2 linked regions of the Homo sapiens genome follow. The protein of the gene in region 2 interacts with the protein of the main gene of each other region in a biochemical or structural test. Each region holds a gene or a part of one and is shown on either strand. Other genes may lie near its edges.

The links. The genes of interacting proteins can lie anywhere in the genome.
Region 1: the proteins of VPS4A (region 2) and NPC1 form a complex in vitro, tested with the Homo sapiens proteins (one study listed by BioGRID).

What each region holds. Positions count from the first base shown.
Region 1 is NC_000018.10:23,530,942-23,534,506, forward strand, and holds the end of NPC1 (NPC intracellular cholesterol transporter 1 precursor), read right to left. Parts: coding exon 3,505-3,565; intron 2,577-3,504; coding exon 2,414-2,576; intron 1,344-2,413; coding exon 1,261-1,343; 3' UTR 764-1,260; coding exon of another isoform or gene 684-763; 3' UTR 501-683; downstream 1-500. Other genes in the region: RMC1 (regulator of MON1-CCZ1 complex), read left to right, coding at 684-763. UniProt on the Homo sapiens protein: Intracellular cholesterol transporter which acts in concert with NPC2 and plays an important role in the egress of cholesterol from the endosomal/lysosomal compartment.
Region 2 is NC_000016.10:69,314,263-69,321,403, forward strand, and holds part of VPS4A (vacuolar protein sorting-associated protein 4A), read left to right. Parts: intron 1-1,745; coding exon 1,746-1,857; intron 1,858-1,962; coding exon 1,963-2,110; intron 2,111-4,387; coding exon 4,388-4,449; intron 4,450-4,560; coding exon 4,561-4,680; intron 4,681-5,124; coding exon 5,125-5,281; intron 5,282-5,878; coding exon 5,879-6,027; intron 6,028-6,425; coding exon 6,426-6,507; intron 6,508-6,788; coding exon 6,789-7,008; intron 7,009-7,141. UniProt on the Homo sapiens protein: Involved in late steps of the endosomal multivesicular bodies (MVB) pathway. Recognizes membrane-associated ESCRT-III assemblies and catalyzes their disassembly, possibly in combination with membrane fission.

The DNA of each region.
Region 1 (3,565 bases), on a different chromosome or scaffold from region 2:
AAGGGTCTGGGGCTTATTAAGGTTTCAGTTTTATGAAGTATACATTGGTTGATCATTCTCATTTTTTTTTTGAGACAGAGTCTCGCTCCGTTGCCCAGGCTGGAGTGCAGTGGTGTGATCTCGGTTCACTGCAACCTCCGCTGGGTTCAAGCGATTCTTCTGCCTCAGCCTCCTGAGTAGTTGGGACTACAGGTGCGTGCCACCACACCCGGCTGATTTTTGTATTTTTAGTAGAGATGGGGTTTTACTATATTGTCCAGGCTGGTCTCAAACTCCTGACCTCATGATCCGCCTGCCTCAGCCTCCCAAAGTGCTGGGATTACAGGTTTGAGCCACCGCACCTGGCCCTGGTTGATCATTCTCATCTCCAAATAGTTATACAACCTAAGACATCATCTTTAGGATAGGGAAGGATCAGGGCTGTCTAATGAAACTTCTAGGTCTATTTCTAGCTCAATGTAAGACGGCATTTAGTTACCATAAGGACAGGTTAGATAGAATCTCTTCCATTTAGCTTTTGTATTTGTCTCTCAAAGCAGATAGGGTAACCCCAAAACTTAGGAAAACAATGTATTTTATTAAAGAAAAATAAGTTAAAACCCAGTAGACACACCTACGAGATGCTTTCTTTGTCCCTCATTTCATGCCACATCTAACTGGCAATTAAATCTCTTCCTTTCTAGGGGAACACTGTGAAGAACATGTTGCTTTTTTCAAACAGATTTTTGGAGACCAAGCTCTAATGAGGCCTACAACATTCTGAAATCACTTGCTGTTTTTTTATATAAAAATGTGTACAAAGTTAATTTATTGCATTAATAAAGCTCTTTAAACTATAAAATGTTATAAAGTGTATCTACAACCTCAACTGTCACTAAAAATATGGTATAGAACTTGTGGGATGGCTTACTCCTAAAAGGAGAGACAGACAGTGCATTGATTGGCCTTTACAGAGTGTCAGTGAGCGGATCACATTCACAGCCATCTAGTGTCACCTCCTGCTTGCCAAAGAATGAGGTTTCTTTCCTGAAGAGGCTGGGAGAAGTTTAGTGTCCTGTGGTTGCCTCCAGATCTAGTAATACTGCTTCCCAAGTCAACTGTGCATTCCTGAGTTCACAGGCGCTACGTTCAAAGCTGCTGCCAAACAACCGATGGTTGGCACCATCCGGTGTTCAACTTGGCCTTGCCGATGCAGCACCCGTCCAGTGGTAAACCGACCGACCCTTAGACACAGTTCAGTCAGGATGCCCTGCGAGAGGGCTAGAAATTTAGAAGCCGTTCGCGCTCTGTTCCTTTGTATCGCTCTTCAGTGGCACAACTTTTGGCTTTATTTACTGATGGCCCTATGAGAGAGAGAGACTTTTTCTTATTTCTGCAGGAGAAAGGGAGCTAGTTGGCTGGGCATAGTGGCTCACGCCTGTAATCCCACTTTGGAAGACTGAGGCAGGAGAATTGCTTGAGACCAGCCTGGACAACAGAGTGAGACCACATCTCTCTCCCTCTCTTTTGGAGATGGGCTCTTTGCTTTCTTCCTCAGGCTGCAGTGCAGTGGTATGAACACGACTCACTGCATCCTAAGCCCACCCTTCTGGGCTCAAGCAAGCTTCCTGCCTCAGCCTAACAAGTAGGTGGGACTGCAGACGCACACCACTTCACCTGGCTAATTTTATTTTTGTAGAGATGGAGGCCTCACTATGTTGCCTAGGCTGGTCTCAAACGATTCTCCTGTCTCAGCCTTCCAAAGTGCTCATCTCTTTTTTTTTTTTTTTTTCTTAAAAGGAACTAGTATATTAGATTGTAATAGAACTACTTTCTATCCCCCGGAGATGATAAAAAGCCCCTCATTTTCTTAATCTTCTACTTCAGTGCTTCAATTTAGTGACAAAGCTATAAATGAAGCAAATCAGTATTGTTCTTTCAACCGTGGGTCATTTTTGTGCAAGGTGAAGTGGCCATAGAAGTAAAAGGATCAAGGACAGTCTCGAGATGAAGAAAGGCAGCAAGCACTTTGCTAAGAAACGGGAAATCCATGAGGGACATAAAAAGCTGTTCTGCAGCACTGCTGGTGTGAGAGCTGGCTGCCAGATGGACTCCTTCATCTCAGTGGCAGGGAGGAGCTGCCCTGCCTGCTGACACTCAGATCCATTCAAGGACTGGCTCCAGGCCTTTGTGAAGCAGACAGATCAGGCCTCCAGAAAAAACATCGACAACTTCCTAATAAAGTAGTCTGCACCATCATGAATCCCCTGGATGGGTTTTTTCTTTTAGAAGAAATTTTTTTACTCAGTATCATTTATCATTATCAAATGACCATTAGTATGAGTTCAAATACTTGAAAAGAATGCCTCAGGATAGAATTCCCTTTCAGTAATGTCCTTCTATTGTGCCACCCTTTTAAGATGAGAACTCTTACCTATGTAACTGAGTAAGACAGGGAGAAATATTAATCCGTGAGTGGCTCCCAGTAAGACCATGGCCAAATACATCCTGAAGTAGAATATCTGGAAAATTTGAGATTTGGCAAAAGCCAACACCACAATCCCTCCAAATTTTGTAAGTGTGATTCCACTGAACACCTAAAAGAAGAGATACTGTGTTAGAAACCACTTTTACCAACCTGTAATTGAACAAAAACACTTCCTTACAAGGATTTCTCCCAGGTTCAAGTGATTCTCCTGCCCCAGCCTCCTGAGTAGCTGGGATTAAACAGGTGCACGCCACCATGCCTGGCTAATTTTTGTGTTTTTAGTAGAGATGGGGTTTCACCATGTTGGCCATGGTCTCGAACCCCTGGCCGCAAGTGGTCCGCCAGCCTTGGCCTCCCAAAGTGCTGGGGTTATAGGCATGAGCCACCGTGGCCAGCCCTTATGGGGATTTCTTAATATTCAAGGTTCAAAGCAATGGGAACTGAACCCAGGTAGCATCATCTACTACCTAACACTATTTGCTGCCTTATGATCCTGGGGGAGAGGTATGACCAAGTTAAAAGCTGTGTATTCTGCACAGACACTGCATCGTGTCTCCCAATTGATTATCTTTCTTTATATTCTCAGGTGAAAACTTAAATATTTAAAAGTGTTACGAAACAAAGTTTTAGTTTTTACTCTTTACCAGGTATTTTCTACAGTGGTAAAGAGATAGGCTAAGCCAGGGTGTAGAGTTGAACCAAGACGACTCTCCAGGCACCAACCGCACATCACACGCTGGGTTCTGGCCCGGGCTCCCCTGCATTTTAAATGGGAAAGACTGCCAGCTGTCTCATGTTTAACTTGTCTGTTATTTTCCTGCTTCAGCACACTGCCACCTAAAAAGGAGCCGTACCAACAGGTACAGTTCCACAGAACGTCCGTTCTGTCCACGATGTGGCAGCTAATTCATGAATTGCCTGAAAGCTTGCAATCCTTAGAAGCTGCTTTGTAAGTACAGGATCCAGACTCTTCAGTCACTGAGGAGGATTACTTTGTGGTGCGACTCTGCCGGCGTGGCCCTGCTCAGGGTACTCACGGAGCTGCCCATGTGGGCAAGTGCCTCTTCCGCGCGCTCCACGCGGCTGCCTTTCATGCTC
Region 2 (7,141 bases):
AGCCCCAGCACACTCTTAGGTGTATTACTAGAATTTCCAAAAGGAGGGAGGGGATGGGTCAGTGCTGCTCCTTATGGGACAAAGAATACCTTCAGTATTGTTCTAAGGATAGACCCAAGCATGAAGCTACAGAGAGTGAAAAAGTCCAAGGTACTGGGGGTGTGTGTTCTGGAGACGAGAAGCCACCAGGGAGAGGAGCGCTGCCTTCCTGTCTCATCTGAAGGAACATCATGCAGAAGAGGGCAGACAAGGGCAGCCTGTGCCTAAGCTCATTTCCAAGAAGGTTTGGGGCTCCCAGCCATTCATTGTAGGTAGTAGAGGGAGCAGAGGCTTGAAAATAATGGCCAGCACTCACCCCTCTTCTCATCTCTTCAATCCGCTGAGTTCATTTCACATCAGCCTGGCCCAGCCTCCCCTGGCCTGTCTGTTTTGTCGAGCTGTCTGTGTGTGTTTCTTTCGGAGACTTCTTCCTTGCAGATAAGAGAGGGCTGAACAAATGCCCCGGCCCTGCCAAGAGCCGGTCAGGAGGTTTATTGTTTGCTGTGCCTGGAACCGTGGGTCTGCGGTGGGACTGCCTGCCTGGTAACTGGTGCCGGATCTGAGGAGGAGAATTCTGGTCATGCTTCGTGCAGGCGTTGGTGAAGCTGCGGTTTTTAAAACCAGGCTTTAAAACCATGTAGGTGCTTTACTGACCGGTCGCGGTGGCTCATTTCTGTAATCCCAGCACTTTGGAAGCCAAGGCGGGTGGATCACTTGATGTCAGGAGTTCGAGACCAGCCTGGCCAACATGGTGAAACTCTGTCTGCACTAAAAATACAAAAATTAGCCGGATGTAGTGGTGGGCATCTATCACTTGAACCCAGGAGGTGGAGGTTGCAGTGAGCCGAGATCGCGCCAGTGCACTCCGGCCTAGATGATAGAGTAAGACTCTGTCTCAAAAAATAATAATAATAAATAAAACCACGTAGGTGCTTTCAGTTCAGCCTAAGGCACTGGCCTACAGGATTTATGAGATTCCCAAAGACACTCATTCTCACAGAGCTCTTAGAAGGTTCCAGAGGGACACAGTTCTCTTCTGTTGGCAGCAGGGAGCAAGCAAGTACTTTTCTTACTGGAGCTACTGGTATGTGGAGCATTGTGTGTAAGCGTCCCTTCCCAGGGTGTCACTTTAGACAGCGAAGGAAACTGTCTTCTCTCTGCAGCCTGGAGAAGCAAGCTGCATGGAGCCAGGAGGAGGAGGAGAGAGGCCTTTCAGTGTATCCTGTGCAAACTTGCAGTCCGGGCAGGACTTTCCTTCTGGCTGGCTCTTCTCTGGCCCTGAGGCCGGGTGCAATTTCTGGTCTCCTTGCTAAACAAACCAGCAGTCACTTGCTCCCGCGTGTCCCTTCTGCCAGGCTCTCAGCTCGGGTCTGTTTCTCTTTCCCTTGAGGCAGCAGAATAGAAAGTCCCATGAACTTGCCCCTTGAGCCCTGACCTGAGATATTAGGTCAGGTTTCCACTTGCTGAAATCCAGAGCGTGGCTTTTAACCGTCTGAGCTTATTGTGAAGATGGCCGGCTGGTTTTCAAAGCCTTCTTTGAAGGCCTTTCTAGCCGATGTTGAAAAAGTAGGCCAATGAAATGGCCCGCAAGCAATAAATCCACAGGCCCAGCGGCATCCCTCGTCACGTTTCATCCCCATGCCTGTGACCCCAGGGACTTTCCACCTCTCCGAGGAAGCACTGAGCCATTTGCTTTGCCTTTCCAGAAAGCCATTGATCTGGTGACGAAAGCCACAGAGGAGGACAAAGCCAAGAACTACGAGGAGGCGCTGCGGCTGTACCAGCATGCGGTGGAGTACTTCCTCCACGCTATCAAGTGTGAGTCACACGAGGGGTCCTCAGGCTGCCGCACTCCAGAGGGGAGCGGAGGAGAGGGGGTGGCGCACGAGCCTCACAGGGGCCCCTCTGTGTTCCCTTTCACAGATGAGGCCCACAGCGACAAGGCCAAGGAGAGCATTCGAGCCAAGTGCGTGCAGTACCTAGACCGGGCCGAGAAGCTGAAGGATTATTTACGAAGCAAAGAGAAACACGGCAAGAAGCCAGTCAAAGAGAACCAGAGTGAGGGCAAGGGGTGAGTGTCTGCAGCGTCCGCCCAGGAACCTGGGCCCTCCTCACGGCTCCCTATCATTCCTGGCGCTCATGCTGCCTTGGACTTCCCTGTGGGAATGGTCCTCATAGTGCAGGGATGACAGTGCCAGCAGCTGCTTTCAGGGAGCATGGCCTGGAGCACTTCCATGTTCACCGTCTCATTGGATCTGACCCACAAGCCATGGGGAGAGGGGGAGCTTGGTGCAGATGGTAGAGCCTCTCAGGACGGGACCCCAGCTCTGTCACCTCCCAGCCTAGTGCCAGGACCCCGTGTGCCTACCATCTCCACATCTTGGAAGTGGGGAGGTCGTGGAACTCACCTCCGAGCGTTGCCACAGGGAGCAGTGAGATGACGTGGGCAGTGCCCTTGGAGCTTGGCACACGAGAGCATGCAATGAGTGCCAGCTGCTGTGACTGTCAAAGAGTCACCTGCCTCCAACAGGTGGGGCGGCCGGCTCGGGTTAGGAGCCCTGCCGAGGTGGCACAGGATGGAACTTGGACCCCCAAAGCAGGGCGGGTGGCCCCGATTCCCCAGCCAGGGTCCTCTCCACAGCCTCTCACCTCAGGTACTGGGTTCGCCCACCACGGTGATCCCAGTCATATGAACACAAATGCTGGTGGTATCTCGGAGGCGTGGGAGGGGAAGTGAGGGGGTCCCCCAGGCAGGAGAGGGGTGGGTGGTGTCAGCTGCCTCACCAGAGGCGAGGCCTCCTCCTGGATGGAGGGTCTGCACCACGTTCCCATCCGCAGAGGGAGAGGTCTGGCGAGGCAGGGGTGGAGGCCAGGGATCTCCAATAAGGATTAAATCAAGTTTTGAGGATGACAGATTCCATCCAGGGAGGAAGTAGCCCTGGGGTGACAGTGGCTGCGTTCTCCCCAGGAGTTCCCTTTCGATTTCGGTTTTGCTTTCTCCTCTGTCCTTCGGCAGTGGCTGCTTTGGAGTCAGGGGCACATGCTGTCCCTGAGTCTCTACAAAAAGCTTCTGGTGCGGGGCATGGTGGCTCACACCTGTAATCCCAGCACTTTGGGAGGCCAACGCGGGCAGATCACTTGAGGTCAGGATTTCAAAACCAGCCTGGCCAACATGGTGAATCCCGTCTCTATTAAAAATACAAAAAAATAGGCCGGGCGCGGTGGCTCACGCCTGTAATCCCAGCACTTTGGGAAGCCGAGGCGGGCGGATCACGAGGTCAGGAGATTGAGACCATCCTGGCTAACACGGTGAAACCCCGTCTCCACTAAAAATACAAAATATTAGCCGGGCGTGGTGGCGGGCACCTGTAGTCCCAGCTACTCAGGAGGCTGAGGCAGGAGAATGGCGTGAACCCGGGAGGCGGAGCTTGCAGTGAGCCGAGATCGAGCCACTACACTCCAGCCTGGGCGACTGAGTGCGACTCTGTCTTAAAAAAAAAATTAGCCAGGCATTGTGGCATGTGCCTGTAATCCCAGCTACTCGGGAGGCTGACGCCAGAGAATTCAGAGAATTACTTGAACCCGGGAGGCGGAGATTGCAGTGAGCTGAGATGGAGATTGTGCCATCGCACTCCAACCTGGGCACCATCTCAAAAAAAAAAAAAAAAAAAAAAGAAGCTTCTGGCAGCTGCATTGTTTGACTGGCTTTTTTTTTTTTTTTTCCCCCAGACAGGGCTTCACTGTCTCCCAGGCTGGAGTGCAGTGGTGCGATCTTGGTTAACTGCAACCTCTGCCTCCCAAGTAGCTGGCACCATAGGTGCGTGCCACCATGCTTGGCTAATTTTGTGTTTTTTGTAGAGACAAGATCTCGCTGTTTCCCAGGCTGGTCTCAAACTCCTGGGCTCAAGCGATCCTCCCGCCTCAGCCTCCCAGAGTGCTGGGATTACAGGGGTGAGCCACCGCACCCAGCCTGGGCTGTGAGAGCCACTGCAGGTGGCCTCCCAGAGTATGAGGTGTGAGTCACCGCACCTGGCCTGGGCTGCTCTTTAAGTCCAGCTGAAGCACATTTCCCTTACGGCCTTCAGGAGAGGGCCGACCCGGATTCCCATCTGCTCCGCGAAGAAACAGGGCGGGTTATAGGAGTGTTTGCTGGGGGGGTCCTGAAGTGAGCTGCTGAGAGCATTGGCCCAAATGTCCCTGAAGTACTTGCTTGAGTCACACGGCACTGTTAAGCCAGGAAGGCTTCGTTCCTTAACCAGTGTGCAGGCAGCGGAGCCTGGACTTGCTGGGAGCACCTCTGTGCTCCAGGCTGAAGGGCCAGCTTGTGACTTTCCGTCTCCCTTCCCAGCAGTGACAGTGACAGTGAAGGGGATAATCCGGAGAAAAAGAAACTGCAAGAACAGCTGATGGGTAAGTGGCTCGCGGCCCTGTGGCAGCGGCAGGGGATGAGAGTGGGTCCGCTGCTGGGTTGGCTCATGCCCCTTGGCCGGGCCCGGGCCCGGGCCGGCCTCCCTCTCGCAGGTGCCGTCGTGATGGAGAAGCCCAACATACGGTGGAACGACGTGGCCGGGCTGGAGGGGGCCAAGGAGGCCCTCAAAGAAGCTGTCATTTTGCCAATCAAATTCCCACACTTGTTCACAGGTGAGAGTTGAGCCATTTCAAACCCCAATGTAAAAATTCCAGGCTTCCGCAGGGCTGGCACTCCGAGGCACCCGGGAGTCAGTGGCGACTCAGCCCCCGGGGCCTGCAGAGGGCCAGGCCTGGCTGCTCGCTGGTGTCCACAACACTGCTGTGGCTGGAGCTATGAGATGACGATCACGTCACAGGGTGGGGGCAGGATCAGGAAGCAGTGCCAGCCGGTGTCACTGTGCAAGGTCATGGGGTCATAGCAGGGGCACTGTGCAAGGTCATGGGGTCATAGCACAGGGCACAGCAGGGAATGTAGCTCCCATCACTTGTTTGCCAGTAGAGTCCGTTGTTTCACAGAATGCCCTGTTTTACTGTATGTATGGGACTCGAGACCCTCTGCTTTTCCTATTCCTTTCCCCAGTCAGGAGGCCTAACTTCTGTGGTTCTCTGTTGCAGGCAAGCGCACCCCCTGGCGGGGGATTCTGCTGTTCGGACCCCCTGGCACAGGGAAATCCTACCTGGCCAAAGCCGTGGCAACAGAGGCCAACAACTCCACCTTCTTCTCTGTGTCCTCCTCAGATCTGATGTCCAAGTGGCTGGGGGAGAGTGAAAAGTAAGTCGGCCACCAGGCCATGCTCTGCCAGCAGCCCCGGCACTGCTAGTGACCCAGCGGCCCACCCTGTGGAGTCACCTCTCAGAGGAGTGGTTTGGTTTTCAGGGAGGGTACCCAAGAGCAGTGTGTCGCTAGCTTATCGGCTGGGACACAGTCCCAACAAAGACAAGTGAAGGTGGAAGGGACCTGGGAGAGGTGAAGTGCTCCACAAGAGAAGGGAAAGGAAGTGAGGATATTTTTGGGGTCTGGGTTGCGGTCCCTGTTGGGGCAGTGTGTGGGGGACATGGTTCCCCACACTGACTCCTGTTTTGCGTGTGATGAGACGGGCTCGGAAGAAGGGGACTGACGTGTTGTAAGTGCAGAGCTAGCGCATGGGGCTCCTGGGATTGAGGCTCTGCGTTTGGGGCTGACACCAAGGTGTGCTCCTCCTCTTGGTGCAGTGTGGCCCGAGGGCTCCTCACCACCACGTTTTCCGCAATTCCGGCATGACCGTGGCCTGCGCCTCCCTGTGGGAAGGGTGAGAAGAGGGAAGTGCCGGGAGCCCAGGCGGGCACGGACGTGAACGTCTTGTCCTCACCCCCTTTCTCACCTTCACAGGCTGGTCAAGAACCTGTTTGAGCTGGCCAGGCAGCACAAGCCCTCCATCATCTTCATCGATGAGGTGGATTCCCTCTGCGGGTCCCGAAATGAAAATGAGAGTGAGGCCGCCCGGAGGATCAAAACGGAGTTCTTGGTCCAGATGCAGGGTGTGTGCCGGGCCCAGGGCCCCCTTGGTTCTTGTTGCACCTGAAGCCAACCCTGGGCTTTATTCTGAGCTGCGGCTGGATTTGGTTGTTCTCAGCCTCGGAGAGGCACTCCCCAGCTCCAGCCCCTCAGGGCACGGGTGGACTTCAATTCCCAAGAGGTGCCTGAGGCCTCTGCCTCACGGGCCACTCCACCCCTCCCATGGCAGGCAGTGCCATAGGTCTCACCTGGCACAGCCAGACCAAGATGTGGTTTAATCTCACTTGGGACCCTGCCAGTGGTGGGTGGCACAGGGATGGCTTCAATTGCTGACACACAAAGCCCCCGGGGTCTGTCCCCAGGTTTCAACTGACCCGTGCAGGTGTCCAGAGTCTGAGTCTTTGTCTCCCTTTCTCCACAGGGGTGGGGAATAACAATGATGGGACTCTGGTTCTTGGAGCCACAAACATCCCATGGGTGTTGGATTCGGCCATCAGGAGGAGGTGAGTCTTCCCCAGGAGAAGCCAGGGCTGGAGGCTTCCTCCCACCATGGTCACGGTCCGCCTGCTGCTGGCAGCCCGGGTGCAGCCTGGCCCCTTTTCCCTGGAGTCTTCCCGTCTGCCTGCCAAGCAGAGCCCTTTGTGAGGCTGGCTTGTTGAGGATGTGCCGCCAGCATCACTGGCCCATGAAATGCGTCCGTTTCACTCAAATCTTCGTGCCTCCCCTTCCGTGAATACCATTCCATCATCCGCTGTCAACTCCTGCCGTGTGCTGGGCTCTCTAGGTTTGAAAAACGAATTTATATCCCCTTGCCGGAGGAAGCTGCCCGCGCCCAGATGTTCCGGTTGCATCTCGGGAGCACTCCCCACAACCTCACGGATGCAAACATCCACGAGCTGGCCCGGAAGACGGAAGGCTACTCGGGCGCGGACATCAGCATCATCGTGCGGGACTCTCTCATGCAGCCCGTGAGGAAGGTGCAGTCGGCCACACACTTCAAAAAGGTGAGTGCCCGCGGCCACTGCTGAGAAAAATCTCATAGTAAGAGCGGGATGTTCGGTTTTTTTTTTCCCAGCTCCTGGTCCTGCTCCCCGGCTGCTCAGGTGACACAGTCTCTGAGGCCTCCTGGAGAGCCGA